Regions from separate parts of the Homo sapiens genome. Here region 2 is linked to region 1. The links come from fine-mapping of genetic effects on gene expression. Tissue or cell type: whole blood. Region 1 holds a variant in brackets; the other region holds the start of a gene. All regions are shown on one strand. Distances are from middle to middle.

Evidence for each region. PIP is the estimated chance that this variant, and not a neighbour inherited with it, causes the effect.
Region 2: PGM5 starts here. The variant in region 1 is fine-mapped to the expression of PGM5 in whole blood (INTERVAL, PIP 0.98).

The regions. Positions count from the first base shown.
Region 1 is chr9:68,377,444-68,385,628 of GRCh38, forward strand. It overlaps PGM5 (phosphoglucomutase 5), which reads left to right. Exons shown (of 11, transcript NM_021965.4): 2 at 756-918; 3 at 6,955-7,101. Among named protein-coding and RNA genes, the nearest start is that of PGM5-AS1, 24 kb to the left of the region's middle. The variant T/G (reference allele first, on the strand shown) is at 3,641.
Region 2 is chr9:68,352,492-68,360,676 of GRCh38, forward strand. It overlaps PGM5 (phosphoglucomutase 5), which reads left to right and starts at 4,120. Exons shown (of 11, transcript NM_021965.4): 1 at 4,120-4,897. The coding sequence starts at 4,637. It overlaps PGM5-AS1 (PGM5 antisense RNA 1), which reads right to left and starts at 5,375. Exons shown (of 3, transcript NR_121192.1): 1 at 5,232-5,375; 2 at 3,799-3,855; 3 at 2,673-3,114.

The sequences.
Region 1 (8,185 bases):
TTTGTAGAAATATTGAGAACTACTAGATTGGATGATATTGAATCCAATTTTAAAACAAGGTGTAGCAATAAATGTTCTTCAGCGCTGTGTTGCTGACTTTTTAGAAAGTCAGTTTTGTAGCTCTGGAAAGAATCTGGCTGCATCCATGAATGACCTCCAGATCTCTGCTTAGCATGACTGGGTAATTTCTCCAATGTCTCCAGCACATGCTGTCACTTAACAGCAGAAAGAGAATTCCTACTTTCAGGAGAAAAGTCATTCCTGAAGATTACAGTTAAAATATGCCCACAGGTGATGAGGTTGTACTAAATCAGTCCCCTTGCTCTCTGAGCTTGTTCTAAGTTACAGGAAGCAGAAGAAGCAGAGAAGCACTCCATTTCTTTTTTCTTGTAATCTCTAGCATGTCCACATGCATAGTTTCTGAGTCAGTAGCAAACTAAGAACTTCTTGTGTGATTCAAGCTAACCCCTCGATTATCAGAAGCAGATGTTTCAAACTACTGAAGATCAATGAGGCATATCCTATTTACAGGTTAATAATTGACTACTAGATGCAGGTGCACCAAATGGTCTTAGAGACATTAGATAGGAGAGACAATGTCAGTGCTCCCCCTACCCTGCCTCCCCTAATCTAAAGCCTACTCTGTTTCTTTTATCAAGTTATTGGCTGTATGTTAACAGAGCCTGGGGCACTTTCCTGTTGAAATGGCTTTAATCCCAAGGAACTGGATTGATTTTTTTTTTTGGATGGTTTAGATTGGACGACTGATTATTGGACAGAATGGCATCTTGTCGACACCTGCGGTCTCCTGCATTATCAGGAAGATCAAGGCAGCTGGTGGAATCATTCTAACAGCCAGCCACTGCCCTGGAGGACCAGGGGGAGAGTTTGGAGTGAAGTTTAATGTTGCCAATGGAGGTATGTGGTTCAGCATATGCCTTAATAATTACGATTTCTTTCCTCTTATATTATTATAGTCTCACAGTGACTCTTTGATGATAGACAAGCAAGGTGCAGAGGACCTAGCTCAGAAAAATTCAGTGAGGTGCCCAAAGAGATCCAACAAAGAAGTGGCATGATGGGCTCATGAACCCATTTGGGTGGTCTCTTGGTCCCCTGTACTCTTCAGCATAAACTATTGAATAGTTGATGCTTATCTGATATGGAAGGACTCTGAATTTTAACATTAAAACATACCCTGAAGGTCGTTGTCTAAATGAAAATGACCCTCATTTTACACATGAACAAATCAAAGGCCTGAGAGGCTGAGTTACTGCTGAAGGCCACAGGGTTGATCAGGGTCAGATTAATGATTTTTAGCCCAAATCCTGGCCTCTCTTTTTCCTACAGTGTTGACTTTCTCTCAAAATCATAGAATTGTTTCACTTTTTCTTATATTCACAGCAATCTATAGTTTGGGGGTCCTTAGTGGAGGGGGTGGGATATATGTATGGAGTAAATTTCTTTTAAAATTGAACACACAAAAAAATAGGGAGAATAAGAAATAGATAACATGTACCCATTATCTTGTTTTTCTATTTTGCTTATCTTTTTTTCTGAAGAATTTTAAAGCAAATTATAGCACGAGAACATTTCACACCCAAATATTTTTGTATGCATCTCTAAAAAAGAAAGACACATTGCTGCATGACTGTGCTAACATACCTAACAATAATAACATTAATTCTCCAATATCACCTGAAAACTAATCTATAGTCAAATTTTTCAATAATCCCCAAAATATTATTATTTATAGCTGTTTTATTCAAATCAGGATACATCTAAGGATGCCATGCATTTGCTTGGCAAGTCTCTTAAATCTCTTTTAATCTAGAACACTGAGTTTGCATGAATGTGGGTAGGAGCCAAATTTTAACCAGCAACAGTTACCATTATAAATTATTCCTCATCCCAGGCAAAGCAGTGCAGTCTGAAGGGAAAACTTATTATCTATCCCTCCTTGCAGACGTTTTACACGTTATCCAAACAAGAAAGTGTATTCATGTTGAATATTTAAAAAACAATATTGTAACCACAAAGCAGAAAACTAAACCACCAAACTACAAAGGTAGACAACAATAGAGGAAGAAGAGAACAAATTATCTACAAAGTAACCAGAAAACAATTAGCAAAATGGCAGGAGTAAGTCTTTTACTATCAATAATAACCTTGCTGGTACATGGGTTAAACTCTCCAATCAAAAGATACAGAATGGCTGAGTGGATCAACAACAAGATCCAACTAGATGCTGCCTACAAGAGACCCATTTTTAAACTTTAAGAATAGGCATATATTGAAAGTAAAGGGATAGAAGGAGATATGCCATGAAAACAGTTACCAAAAGAGAGCAGGGATGCCTATACTTATATCAGATAAAACAGACTTCCAGTAAAAAGCTGTTCCAAGAGACAAAGAAGGTCATGATTTAATGATAAAGAGGTCATCTTATCAAGAGGACATAACAATTGTAAACATATATGCATCCAACATTGAAGCACTTAAATATGTAAAGCAAATATTAGTGGACATGAAGGAAGAAATATACAGCAATATAACACTAATAGGGGACTTCAGTACTCCACTTGCAACAATGGAGAGATCAACCAGACAAAAAATTAACAAGACAACACTAAATTTGAACTATACTTCAGACCAAATGGACCTACCAAACCTACATTCATCCAACAACAGCAGAATATACATTCTTCTCTAGCATACATAGAACATTCTCCAGGATAGACCATATGTTAGGCCACAAAATAAACCTTAACAAATTCAAAAAGATTGAAATCATGTCTAGTATTGTTTCCAACCACAATGGTGTGAAGCTAAAAATCAATAACAAGAGGAATCTTGGAAAATTTACAAATATGTGGAAATTAAACAACATGCTTATGATGAACTAATGGGTCAAAGAAGAAATCAACAGGGAAATTAAAAAATACTTTGAGATTAATGACAATGGAAACACAATGTATCAAAACCTACAGTATGCGGCAAAGTCAGTTCTAAGAGAGAAGTTTATAGCAATAAATGCCTACATTAAAAAAGGAAAAAGATCTAAATAAGTAGACTAACATTATGCCCCAAGGAGCTAAAGAAAGAACAAACTAAACCCAAAGTGAGCAAAAGGAAGGAAATAATGAAGATCAGAACAGAAGCAAATAAAATGTAGTATAGAAAAACTATAGAAAATATAAATAAAATCAAAAGTTGGTTCTTTGAAAAAATAAAATCTACAAACTCTTAGCTAGATTCACTAAAAAAAGCAGACTCAAATAAATAAAATCAGAAATGAAAGTGGAGACATTGCAATAGATACCTCAGAAATAAAAATGGTCATAAGGGATTATTATGAACAATTTTATGCCAACAAATTGGAGGACCTAGAAGAAATGGATAAATTTCTAGAAAAACTAACCCAACAAGATTGAATTGGGAAGAAACAAAAAGTTTGAACACTCCAACAACAAATAAAGAAATTGAAGAAGTGATTAAAAACTTTCCAAAATAGAAAAGCCTAGGACCAAACGGCTTCATGGCTGAATTTTATCAAACATTCAAAGAATAATTATTACCAACACTTCTTAGACTCTTCCAAAAATTAGAGCTACAGGGAATACTTCCAAACACATTTTGT[T/G]AGGCCAGCATCACCTTGATACCTAAAGCCAGACAAACATATTGTAAGAAAATAAAACCACAGGCCAATATCTCTGATAAATATTGACGAAAACCAAATTCAACAACACATTAAAGAAATTATGAATCATGGCCAAGTGGGATTTATCCCTGACATGCAAGACTGGCTAAACAGAATGAAAGATAAAAACCACATGATCATCTCAACTGGTGCAGGAAAGGCATTTTAGAAAGTTCAGCATTCTTTCTTAACAAAAACTCTTAACACTTTAGGTATAGAAGGAAAGTTTCTCAACATAATAAAGGTCGTTTATAAGAAACCCACAGCTAACATCATAATCAATTGGGGACAACTGAAAACTTTTCCACAATTTAGTACATGGCAGGGATGCCCACTCTTGCTATTTCTATTCAACATAGTTTTGGAAGTACTAGCAAGAGCAATCAGACAAGAAAAATAAATAAAAGTCATCCAAATTGGAAAGGAGAAAGTAAAATAATCTCTATTTACAGATGATATGATCCTATATATAGAGAATTCTAAAGATTCTACACATGCACACACACACACACACACAAACACACACACAAATTTTTAGAACTAATAAATGAATTCAGTAAATTGCAGGATACAAAATCAACATACAAACATCAGTAGCATTTCTATACATAAATAATGACCCAGCTGAAAATAATCAAGAAAACAATGCCATTTATGATAGCATCAAAAAAATACTTAGGAATAAATTTAACCAAGGGGTGAAAGTATACTGAAAACTATAAAACATTGATTGAATAAGACACAAATAAATAGATATCCTGTGCTCACTGATCATGGATCAAAAACATTAATATTATTAAAACATTCATACTACCAAAAACAATATACAGATTTAACACAACCCCTATCAAAATTTCAATAACATTCTTCATGGAAATAGAAAAGCAATACTAAAATTTGTTTGGAGCCCCCAAAAACCAAAGCAATGTTGAGGAAAAAAAAGTTGGAGGTACCACACTTGCTGATTTAAAATTATATTACAAAGCTAAAGTAAAACCAAAACAGTATGATACTGGCATAAAAACAGAAACATAGACCAAGGGAACAGAATAGAGAGCCCAGAAATAAATCAAGGCATATATAGTCAAGTAATTTTGGACCAGGGCACCAAGAGGACATAATGGAGAAAGAAAAAAACCTCTTCAATAAATGGTGCCTGGGAAAACAAAAATGTAAAAGAATGAAATTGGACCCTTATCTTACACTATACACAGAAATAAAATGAATAAAGAACTAAATATAAGATCTGAAACCATAAAAATCCTAGAAGAGAACATAGGGAAAAAGTTATTTGACATTGGCCTTGGCAATGATTTCTTGGATATCACATCAAAAGCTCAGGCTACAAAAGCAAAAACAAATAAATGGGACTACCTCAAACTAAAAAGCTTTTTAGCTTTTCCATTTTTCATTTATTTATTTTATGCACTTTAAAATCTCTGGGTATTCTTTTTTAGCATCTTAAAATTTATTTTTATATGAGTGCCTGTAGATTTGCCGTATCCTTTAAAAAACAATTATTTTAATATATATTATAATTGTACATATTTTTGGTGTGCATATGGTGAAAGTCATTGGAGTGGAAGATATCAGGGAGCTTGGAAATTGAAAAGGAATTCAGAAGTTGTTGATGAACTCTGAAGTTATCAGCATGGATGGTTGAATGGCATCATAGACAACTATCTAGAGAGACAGTACTTTCTTTACTTTTGGAAATCAGTGTGCTTTGGCATTAAAACTCAGGGACTTGAAAATGATGGACACAGCCAAAGAATATAGTATGGTGCCTGGGGTGTAGGGAGTGGAGGGAGATATTCATGCATTCTATAATCTGGCAAGCATAAAATAATGCAAAAACGAAACAAGACTACCTATTCTTTAAGTTTTGTGAAGGGTAAAAAATGGTAAGGAGTGAAGAAAAGGGCTATGTTTATTTCTTTGAGGACTTCACTTTTCCCACACAACAAGAAAATTGTTGGTAAAATCTTCTGGGCTGTCTTCTCTCCCACTTACTAGAATAGGACTATTGCTATTCTTTTTTATGAGCATGTATTGGAATACGGTGATGGTGCTACACTCTAAGGCAGCGTTGTCCAACAGAAAAATATTGTGAGTCACATACATACTTTACATTTTTAGTAGCCACATTAAAAAAGTGAAAAGAAACAAGTGAAATTCACATTGTGTTTTATTTAAACTACTATATCTAAAATATTATTATACCATGTCATCAATATAAAAATTATTAATGCAATCGATTGCATTTTCTACTAACTCTTCAAAATTTGGTGTGCATTTACAATTGCAGCACACCTCAACTTGACTAGCCACATTTTAAGTGCTCAACAGCTAAATGTGACAAGTAACTATTGTATTGGACAATGCAGTTCTAAGGATTGAGATATTTTAAAAATCAAGAAACAATTTTTGTTCAGTAGAAAGTTACAGTATAGTTGACAAGTAAGATTCATACAGAAAGCTATCTATACATCTAGCGATCATTTATACTTTAGATCTTTCAATCTACTTATTTGTTTCTCAACCTTGTTGCAAAAAAAAAAAAAATCTGAAATGGCTTGCATTAAGATATACAAGGTAAAAAAAAAAAAAAAAAAAAAGCAAAACCCCAAAAGGTGAACAAGTATTGATTTCATGTTCAATTTATTTAAAGTCTAATACTACTTGTCAATTTGGTCTTCCGAGGAAATGCATCACATATTTTTAGTTGAGCTTCATTTTGGAAGTGACTAGAGATTGTGAGTTGGGGAAAATAATTAACTTACCCTGCTAAGCTCACACATCAATTAGGTAGCAGAGCTGGGAATAGAAAGCATAGTCTCCTCTTCTAGATGCACTGGGGAAGCTGCATGTAAATCTGGAATCCCTCACTTCTGTCAAATGCATATCCTGTTTGTGTCTCATAACCTGAATAAAGCTGATTACGTAACCAGGTTTCCCTGGCAGGTGTGAAACTATTTTTAGGAAAGATGTGTCATTGCTTAGAAGTGGATTAAAACAAACAAACAAACATATGGGTTGTTAGTCTACATAGAACAGGTGAGGCTGATCAAATTTCCCCCATAGTGGATGAGTACAGTATAAGAAATATCAAGGCTAATTGAACTGTGAACCATTGATCATTGTTTAGAGAACAAATGAATCTTTTTCTGCCTGGTGGAGGAGGATGGTAACATTTCACTGCTTGAAACTCACGAGACTTTCAAAAACATGTATTTTTGGTGTTCACATTTTAGGTCCTGCACCCGATGTTGTCTCAGACAAAATCTACCAAATCAGCAAAACGATTGAGGAATATGCTATATGTCCTGATCTCCGAATCGACCTATCTCGACTAGGAAGACAAGAATTTGACCTAGAAAACAAATTCAAACCATTCAGAGGTAACAGAGATTTTATTTTGAAGAAGTCAGAGTAACTATGTGGATGGGGCTGACTGGTTTCTGTAGGGAAGTAAACTCATGAAAATTATTGCATTGTTAATCTCAGGGGTGACTCGATAAATGTGTGTAAACTTAATATGGTGTAGAGAGAAGACATGAGAGCAGCCAAGATATTCAGAACTGGAAACTTTCAAAAACCACTTCCCAAACTCGATATCATTTTCAACATAGGAAAAGTTTTATGGTTGACTTCATTATAGCATTCCAAAAATAGGCTGTGAATTGCCAAAACTTGTCTAAGCAATTAAGGTGAAGATGCTGGAATGCCTTAGTTAAGAAGAAACCTAACAAGTCAATGGGTTATTAAATTTCTCATGAAAGGTAGGAGTTTCTTTTCCAAGCCATAACCAAGCTTGGAATAATTATGCATCAGCTTATTGAATGCATAATTATTGATCACCTGCCCTATACCAAGCACCGTGTTAGGAGATTTTACAAAGGAATTCAGTAACTATCAAATATATTTAGGCAAGTGATTCAAAAATTAAAGAACCAAAATGAGATTGTCAAAAATATTATCTTATATTGTAAAGCAAATATAACTTCTACAGTATTCAGAAGATAGCTTTTTGTTTTATAGATTAATTTTAGACCATATGACAACAACATTAATAACATGTATGTATACATTTTCCCCCTGTATTTTATCATATTGCTTTTTCCTAGAAGGCATAGAATAGCAATAGATCTAACATGTTTTACTTTTTTAGTGCTTCTATAAGCTTGAATGCAGTTTGTGTTAAGATGGTATCCTCATTTTAGAAGTAATTTAACTTAGCCCAAAAGAGGAAATACCTGGTTTGTGTCCATGTGATATTTTAGGGATAGAGAAAAGATTAAAATGGATTGTGTGGGGGGTCACAGTATTTGCCCAATGTTACCAAATCTTTCTTGAGAAGTTTTGAGTCAGTTGTTTGCTTAGGTAATGAGCAGAAATTTACAGAGAGCCATGATACTCACTGGAAGCAACAGTGCCTGCTTTTGCTAATCTAGCTGGGAGAATGCATAGGCATATGTGTGCACA
Region 2 (8,185 bases), 25 kb before region 1:
ACATTCTGGTGAATTTCTAAATGGAAGTCTGATAGAGATTAATCTTTTAATGCATCATAAATAAAAAAGAAAATCACAGAATGATGTAGCTGGAGAGGACCCTGGGGATCTAAAGTGTTTCATGAAAGATTAATGTCCTTGATCTGTTTGTAAGTGTTTTGGAAAAATCTTCCATGGTCAAATAAAACTTGGCAATGTTGGATTAAAGTTAAATAGGTTTTTTTTCCTGCAGAACTTCATAGTCTTTAATATGCTAATGTGTTTTGTGAATCTACAAGGAATGAAGTGTTTCAATACTTATTTTACCCAGATTCTCATTTTGGGACAGGCTGGTCAAACTGAGTCAGCTAGTATATTCTCTAGATGGAGATGATGGCTGATGCCTTTTTGAGAGCAAGAGAGTCCCCAGGGGAAGCAAGGATATATCAGTTGCTCCTATTTCATGCCAAGAATCCTCAGTCTTTAGAGGCTCAGAGAAGGCTGAAAGGCTACTCTAGGCTATCAGGGCTACCATTCATTGTGACCCATGCTACAGAGAAGCTTTGAGCTCAGTGCAAAGGAGTGACCAGCCCTTGAGAATCAGGAAAATTTATTTATTTCTGACCTAGTCCACTGAGGACATACAAGGAATGGGGCAGGGGAATGTCACCAGCTATGGTTACAAGCTAGTCTGATTCTCTTTCATTAAGAAAACTGGTCCCTGTGAGTTTAGATTGGGAAGCACCAGGTTAAAAAAAATTTTTAGGCCAGGAGTGGTGGCCACTGTACTCCAGCGTGGGTGACAGAGTGAGAATCTGTCTTAAAAAAAAAAAAAGTTAATTGATGTCTTCTGTTGAGGACCTCTCAGAACTTTTAATATGAAAGTGTGCATTGTGAAGAATGGGAGTAGAGTGTACAGGAGTTTTAAAAGCTACTTGGTCATGAAACTCTTGCTTTGTGCAGGATTCGAGGGGCACTAACATTCTGAGGAAAATATTTTGGGAAACATTGATCTAATCCAAACTTCTCATTTTACCAGCAAACAACTGTGGGGCCCTCTAAGTTTCCTTTCTCCATCATTGTGACAAATTCATTGGAATTAATTCAATTAAACCTGGGGTCAGCTTTGAAGAGATTTATTTAGCAGGTAAATCTGTTTTGTACATTTTGAGGGAGTTCTGAGTTTCCATAGTCAAAAACCACAGAACAATTTAACCAACCTTTATGGAATATCACCTATGGCCCAAAGACCCTTTAGCTACAGTGATGGTCTACAAAAATATAAACTGTAATTCTTGCAATACAGGAGATTAGTAATAATGGTAAATATAATGATGATGACACCATGAATAGCTAACATTTATTGAATGCCTTTCTATTAGTCAGGCACTTTACTAAGTATTTTAATCCTCCCAACAATTTATGAGGTAGGGATTATAATAATTCCCATTTTATAGTGAGGACACTGAGGTTAGGAAATTATCCTAGCCTAAATGTTAGGTATAAGCATGAATAGAAAGGTGTTATCAGCCTATAAGACATTCCTTTATGAGTGATACAAAGTCCTATATAAATTCAGAGAAAAGACAAATGGTTTTAGAAATCCTTGATCAGTGAGTGTGAAGCACGTGGTGGCCCGGTTACTGTTTGGTTGCCCATCTGTCCTCCCTCTGGGGATCAGCACCCCCTTACTTTGGAAGACTTGTTTTCCTTGTCACTGTAAGGTTCTTTCTGGCTATGTGGTAGGGCACATTGCCTCAAACTAGCCCTGTTCCAGTCTTTGAGAACCTTGAAATTGGAACCAAGGGAAGAGGATTGCCTCTTGAATGGTAATTCTCTAAAATCTAGTCTGAGGTGCTGGTGCCTAATCCCTGGGTCTGTGGAAGGAGCTGGGCTGTGAGAGGGGAGAATGATGTTGATGTCAAGAGAGAGGCAGGTGCTAGGAGCAGAGAGATGGAGGCCTGGAGGGTTTCTGGGCTTCTCTGAGGCTTAGGGTTTGGATCATTGTCTTCGTTACTGGAACAAAGGATTTACCATACCTGCTCTTCTGGGAATGAAACTGTCCTGCTTTGCAAAAAAAAGTGTCATTAGAAAGAGATCTTAAAAACCCCACACCATAGACAGGTGCACAGATCCCTAGAAGTGTTAAAGTTCTGTCTGTTGGATGCTAAGCCAAGACTCTTAAGTATGTTCTAAAGAGAAACTGGTGTGTGTAGGCTGTGCACTCCCAGGGAGATAAAAAGTTAGGAACTTTATGGGTTGGGCTTGGTGGCTCACACCTGTAATCCCAGCACTGTGGGAGGCTAAAGTGGGCAGATTGATTGAGCTGAGGAGTTCGAGACCAGCCTAGGCAACATGGTGAAACCCCATGTCTACAAAAACTACAAAAATTAGCTGGGCGTGGTGGCATGTACCTGTAGGCAGGAGGATCGCTTGAGCCCAAGAGGGAGAGGGTGCAGTGAGCCATGATTGTGCCACTGCACTCCACCTGGGTGACAGGAACTTTATGGGAAATGGGATCTTGGAGACTGAGTAGAGACTAGAGGAAAAAAAAAAACTACCTCCCCGACTGGCCACACTATTCTTTTAAAAAAATGTTAATTGACAAATTAAAATTGTATGTATTTACGGAGGTATGATGTGATGTTATGATATATGTATACATTGTGGAATAATTAAATCCAGAGAATTAATAGATTCATCACCTCAAAACCTATCTTTTTTGTGGTGAGAACATTTGAAATTTATTGTCTTAGCAATTTTGAAATACACAATACTTCATTGTTAACTACAGTCACCATGCTGTGCTGTAGATCTCAACAAAATATATTCCTCCTGTCTCAACTAAAACATTGTACTCTTTGACAACATTTCCCCATTCCTCTCACCCCCTCCAAAAACACCCATTCTTTATGTTGAAGAGAATGGCTAAAAAGTCCCAGCAGGTTTCAACAGACGGCTTCAGTGGTTGTCCCATCACACTTCAATGTTATTAATAAAAAGGGGAGGGGCAATACATAATTCGGACAGGCTGAAAGTACCATTGTAACCACTTTCTTGACTTCACAGAAAAAGTCCTCTTGTTTTCATCTGTAAAATGGGAACTGCATGAATACCATTCTTCTTTTCTTCAGCCTCCAAAGAAAAAACAGATGCAAAGCCTTTAATCAATTGCAAAACAGTATACAATGTGTGTTATTACTCACAGTTGTCTTACTGTGACCAAACACTTTATAAGCCTGCGGCAAGTCAGCCTTACTCTCAGTAAGTGGACAATATTTGGGGAAGGAGAAGCAGCAGGATATTTCAGGACAGTAGCCTTGGTGGGTCCAAAAATTCCTTGAGAGAAATGGGAGATAGAACTTTCTTCCTGCTTTGGGTTTTATCCTGTTAGTCTTTTCTCTCTTCACTCCTATTTTCTATGGAGAATTTCCTGGTTTTGGAGTTTGGGTGCGTTTTATGGAGAGGAGGCAGAAAATCTTTAGCTCCAGCAGAATGAAAGGATACATGCAAAGGAACCTAGCACAGTATCTGGTACCCAGGTCTCCTTTAACTTGGCTTTATTCATTCACTCCTGGTAGGGCATTAATAAGGGATTTAGCCCCCTCCTATTGAAAACGATTAATTCAAGGAAGAGTTCAGACAGTGTGGACAGATACAGTGTAGGAAAGCCTATTTCTAAGGCAGGAGCTGGGTAGGGAGGGTGAGAAGGGCGAGAAGAATAGGGAAATATGTGTCGTCTGTGTTGCTGCTGTTGCAACCACCACAACAAACAAACAAGTGAAAAAAAAAAAAAAAAAAAAAAAGAATTGTCCATACCGGAAAGTGTGCTGTTTTGGAGGAGGCTGGGGAAAGTGTGGATGGCTCGAGTGGGTCCTGTTGGATTGAAGTCTGACAGTGGTGATTCCCTTCAACAAATGGTCGGGGTGGGAGGGTACACACACACACACACACACACACACACACCCCACACGCAGCGCCCAGCCTCCGATTTCAGCGCTGGCAGGAGATAACCATTCTTAGCTCGCCTTTCCAGGGTTATTTTTGGCTGAGGCTGTTCGCTGATGGCAAAAGGTTTCAGCCCCCTCCCAAATCCCTCCCCGTCCTTGTTCTAAAGAGAAACTGGTGTGTGTAGGCTGCGCACTCCCAGGGAGACAGGGAGACGGGCCGGGCGCCGGAGAGGAACCCGGACTCTGCCCAAAGTCTCGCCGCCCGCCGGCTGTTTTCTGGCGGAGGGTGTGCCCCGGAGGGCGGCGATCGCGGGTGAAGGCTGGGGCCAGGCGCGGGTGGAGGCGTCACCGGGGTCGGGCTAGCAGGCCCTGGAATCAGGCTTTTGGGACACCCCGAAAGTGAGTCCAACTTGGGGAGAAACTGAGGGCAGCTCGGGCGGTCTGGCAGCGGAGAAGGTGGGTGGGAGAAAACTTTACAGGAAGGCAGAAGCAATCTCTGCCGAGAGAGTCAGCCGAGCGGCCGCGCGGAGAGGAGGGGCGGGCGGTCCCCAGGCGGGCGGGTGCAGGGCGCAGGGCGCCGACCTGCTGGAGAGGGGGCCCGGGCGCGAGGCGGAGTCCCGGCGCGCAGCCAGGCTGGTGGAGGCCCCCGGCAGGCTGCAGATTCCCTCCGGCTCCGGGAGCCGCAGCAGGACCGGCCAGGAGGCGCCATGGAGGGGAGCCCCATCCCGGTGCTGACAGTGCCCACCGCGCCCTACGAGGACCAGCGGCCGGCCGGCGGCGGGGGTCTGCGGCGACCCACCGGCCTCTTCGAGGGCCAGCGCAACTACCTGCCCAACTTTATCCAGAGCGTGCTGTCGTCCATCGACCTGCGCGACCGTCAGGGCTGCACCATGGTGGTGGGCAGCGACGGCAGGTACTTTAGCAGGACGGCCATCGAGATCGTGGTGCAGATGGCCGCGGCCAACGGGGTGAGTGTCCGGATGCCCCTCGCTTCCCGCCGCGCCGCCGCCATGCCCTCTCCTAGCCCTTGTCCCCCTGCTGCCTCCGGGCCCAGTTGGGAGGCCCCTGCCCGGCCCCGGCTTTGCTACCTCACTCCCGCGTCCTCACCCTCCAGCGCCCCACTCCCGCCGCGCTCGCAGCCTCCCCGGTGCACCCCGGACACTGGGTTCTATTAGTACCCACCGCCCCCAAAAGCCTTGAGGGGTTTCCGTCGTTCCTGGAGCCACTCCGGGCGCCCTGGACTCTTCTCCGACTCTGCGCACATCCCGCACCTGCTCATTTTTCTTTCGGACATTCTCTTACCCGGCCCTGTAGATTCCAAGGCAGCTCCCAGTTTTCCATATTGTTCCCAACGCATTCACTGCCCACAGTCCCCACACAAACTTCTTTCGCAGGCTCACAACATAGTCCCTCTGCCCCGTGCCCTTTTTGCAATAATCTGCCAGTCCCCTAAGTCTTAGCTCTGCCTATTTAACAGTAGTGGTGTCTCAGAACACACACACACACACACACACACACACACACACACACACACACACACACACGATCCCTGACATATTTGGCAAGAGTAGGCCCTGAAGGTTTTTATTATTTTGGTTCTTTAACCCAGTGGAATTACTGAATGATTTATTTAATTAGGGTAGGGATGGAGTGGATCCATTTGTTTGATGCTAAACAGCCTGAGCTCGCAGTTCCCAGGGGGCATATCTCTAAATGGTCTGAAATGAGATTTGCAGTGGTTTTCTTAATGCAATTCCCAACTTCTCTCCAAATGCCTTTTGGCATTTGACAACATTTCATGCCTCTTCCCCTTTCGGTTTTCATCCTTGTTTTCTCTCCCTTCTCCCACGACCTCGGTAGTCTTCTGCAATCCAGATTCTCAGACTTCAGGTTTTTCTCCCTCTGCCCCTTTCCTCTCTGTCCTATAACTAGAAGCACCTTTTGGCATAGACCCATATCCCAGTTTCCTCTTTCCCAGGTCCAGCAGCATCTCAAGGACATCTACAAGAGGGATACCTAATTTCAGGGGTCTCTGAATTATATGTGGGAAACATCGTCTAAAAAAGTAATTTTATCCTTATTCATGCAACCAGACCCACACTCATAGAACTTTTCTTTAAGGAAAGTGTCTTGCAGATGTATAAATGAGTGTTAACATCTTTAAAAGCGAAACTGAACAATTCCCTGGCATTTGAATTCCCTCCTTCCTTCCCAACCCTCTCCTTTTCATTTTCTCATTTATTATTAAAAACATTTTTAAAGGATCTCCATGCTTCATATTTATCTACTATAATTCCTCCTTCTCGGTGTTGCAGGGATGGGGAAAGAGGATTTTTTTAAAAACATAATAAAACGCAATTGGGAGAAACAGGGCCAGTGGTGTTGGGGTGGGTAGTGGAATTGTGATTTTTGACTCCAGTAGACAATGATGCTGGATATATGGGGTTTGATTTATCTCTGGCTCCTCACTTGGGATTGATGAAGTTTGGCTAGAATCAGGGAGTTGAAGAGAGGTTGACAAATGGTCTTTCACTCTTCTCTGACAGGCTGTTCCTGTGGAGTGATGGAGAATAACGAGCCTTGGGAGAGCTATGGGAGCTCTCATACTTCTTCCCGAGCCAATTTTTTAGGGAGTGAGAGAAACATGGCCTGTCCAATACTTGTTGTGGGTCAGGATATTTTTGAAGCTACGGTTGTTGATTTGCATGGGAAAATTATTATGTCTTATTATTTCTTGTCCCACTTTACCATAAGGACTCCTCAGCTTCTTACTTCAATGGGTCTTCTATGACAAACACACTTTATTAACTCTAAGAGTGGAATTTATTTTAACAGATAATTAGCATAGGTCAATATATGCTTAAAATAGGGTCAAATTAAACCTACTAGCTGTTATAAAGGACAGATGACAAATTAAAATCCACATAGAAGCATCGACTCTTAAATAATCTGAAAGTACTACTTCTAAGAGGGGTGGGCATGGGTGAAGGGAATGGTGGACATGTTTCAGAATTTCAAACAGCCAACTTTAACCAATCTTTTCCTCATTTTGTTCACCTTCTTGGGGGCTTATGCTAAAGTGAAGTGAATAGCCATAAGGCTGGCTTCAGGAGAAAGGTGGTCTAAAAGAACTGGATAATTATAAGCAAAATTGGTCTTGAATGATTGAAAATTGATGAGAATGTGCTTGTCTCCTGATTTGGCATCCTGAATTAGACTCAGGAATACTGAACTTGGATCCCAAAGGCTTTGGTCTTTTTTGATATCCTATTGGATACTCATAAGCAGGCTAGAAAAATAGAAAACTAGAATTTATTCTCTTTGAACTGACAAATCTAACCAGTGGGCTGCATTCTCTATATCTGAAAAATCTTGGTTTTGATTGAAAAAGTTAATTTTACAAAGCAATTTTCTTTTTTTAAATTAAATTTCATTTTTTTTGAGACTGGGTCTCACTTTGTTGCCCAGGCTGGAGTGCAATGGCACAGTCTTGGCTCACTGTAGCCTTGACCTCCCCAGATTCAGGTGATCTTCCCACCTCAGCCTCCTGAGTAGCTGGGGCTATAGGTGCATGCCACTATGCACAGCTGATTTTTGTGTTTTTACTACTCATAGGGTTTCTCTGTGTTGCCCAGTCTAGTCTCAAACTCCTGATCTCAAGAGATCTGCCTGCCTTGGCCTCCTAAAGTGTCATGAACCACCATGCCCAGCCTACAAAGCAATGTTCTAGGAAAAACTACAGTTACTCTTTGATTATGTAATTGCTGGAGAAGAAAAACATGGCATTTCTAAAATGATGAACTATATTACTTATATTTTAATATCTCATAAAGTTTGAAATAGACATTTCAAACATAAACATGTATAAAAAATTTTATAAATTAAAAATATAATATCAAAAACATAAAATTATTTTATTATAAAATTATTATAGAATCAAAAACATTATAAATTTAAACAACTTTTTTAAAAATTTATTTTGGGATTTCCCATGGAGTGATGGAGAATAATGAGCCTTGGGAGAGCTATGGCAGCTCTCATACTCCTTCCTGGGCCAACTTTTTTAGGAAATGGGAGAAATATACCCTGTTCAATGTTTATTGTGGGTCAGGATATTTTTGAAGCTATAGTTGTTGATTTGCTTCAAACTTTAAAAAATTTATTATAAAATTATGGGATGTAAAAAAATTTATTATAAAACTTTGAAATTTTCAAACTTTCAGAAAAGCAGAGAGATGAGATTAATGGCACTCATA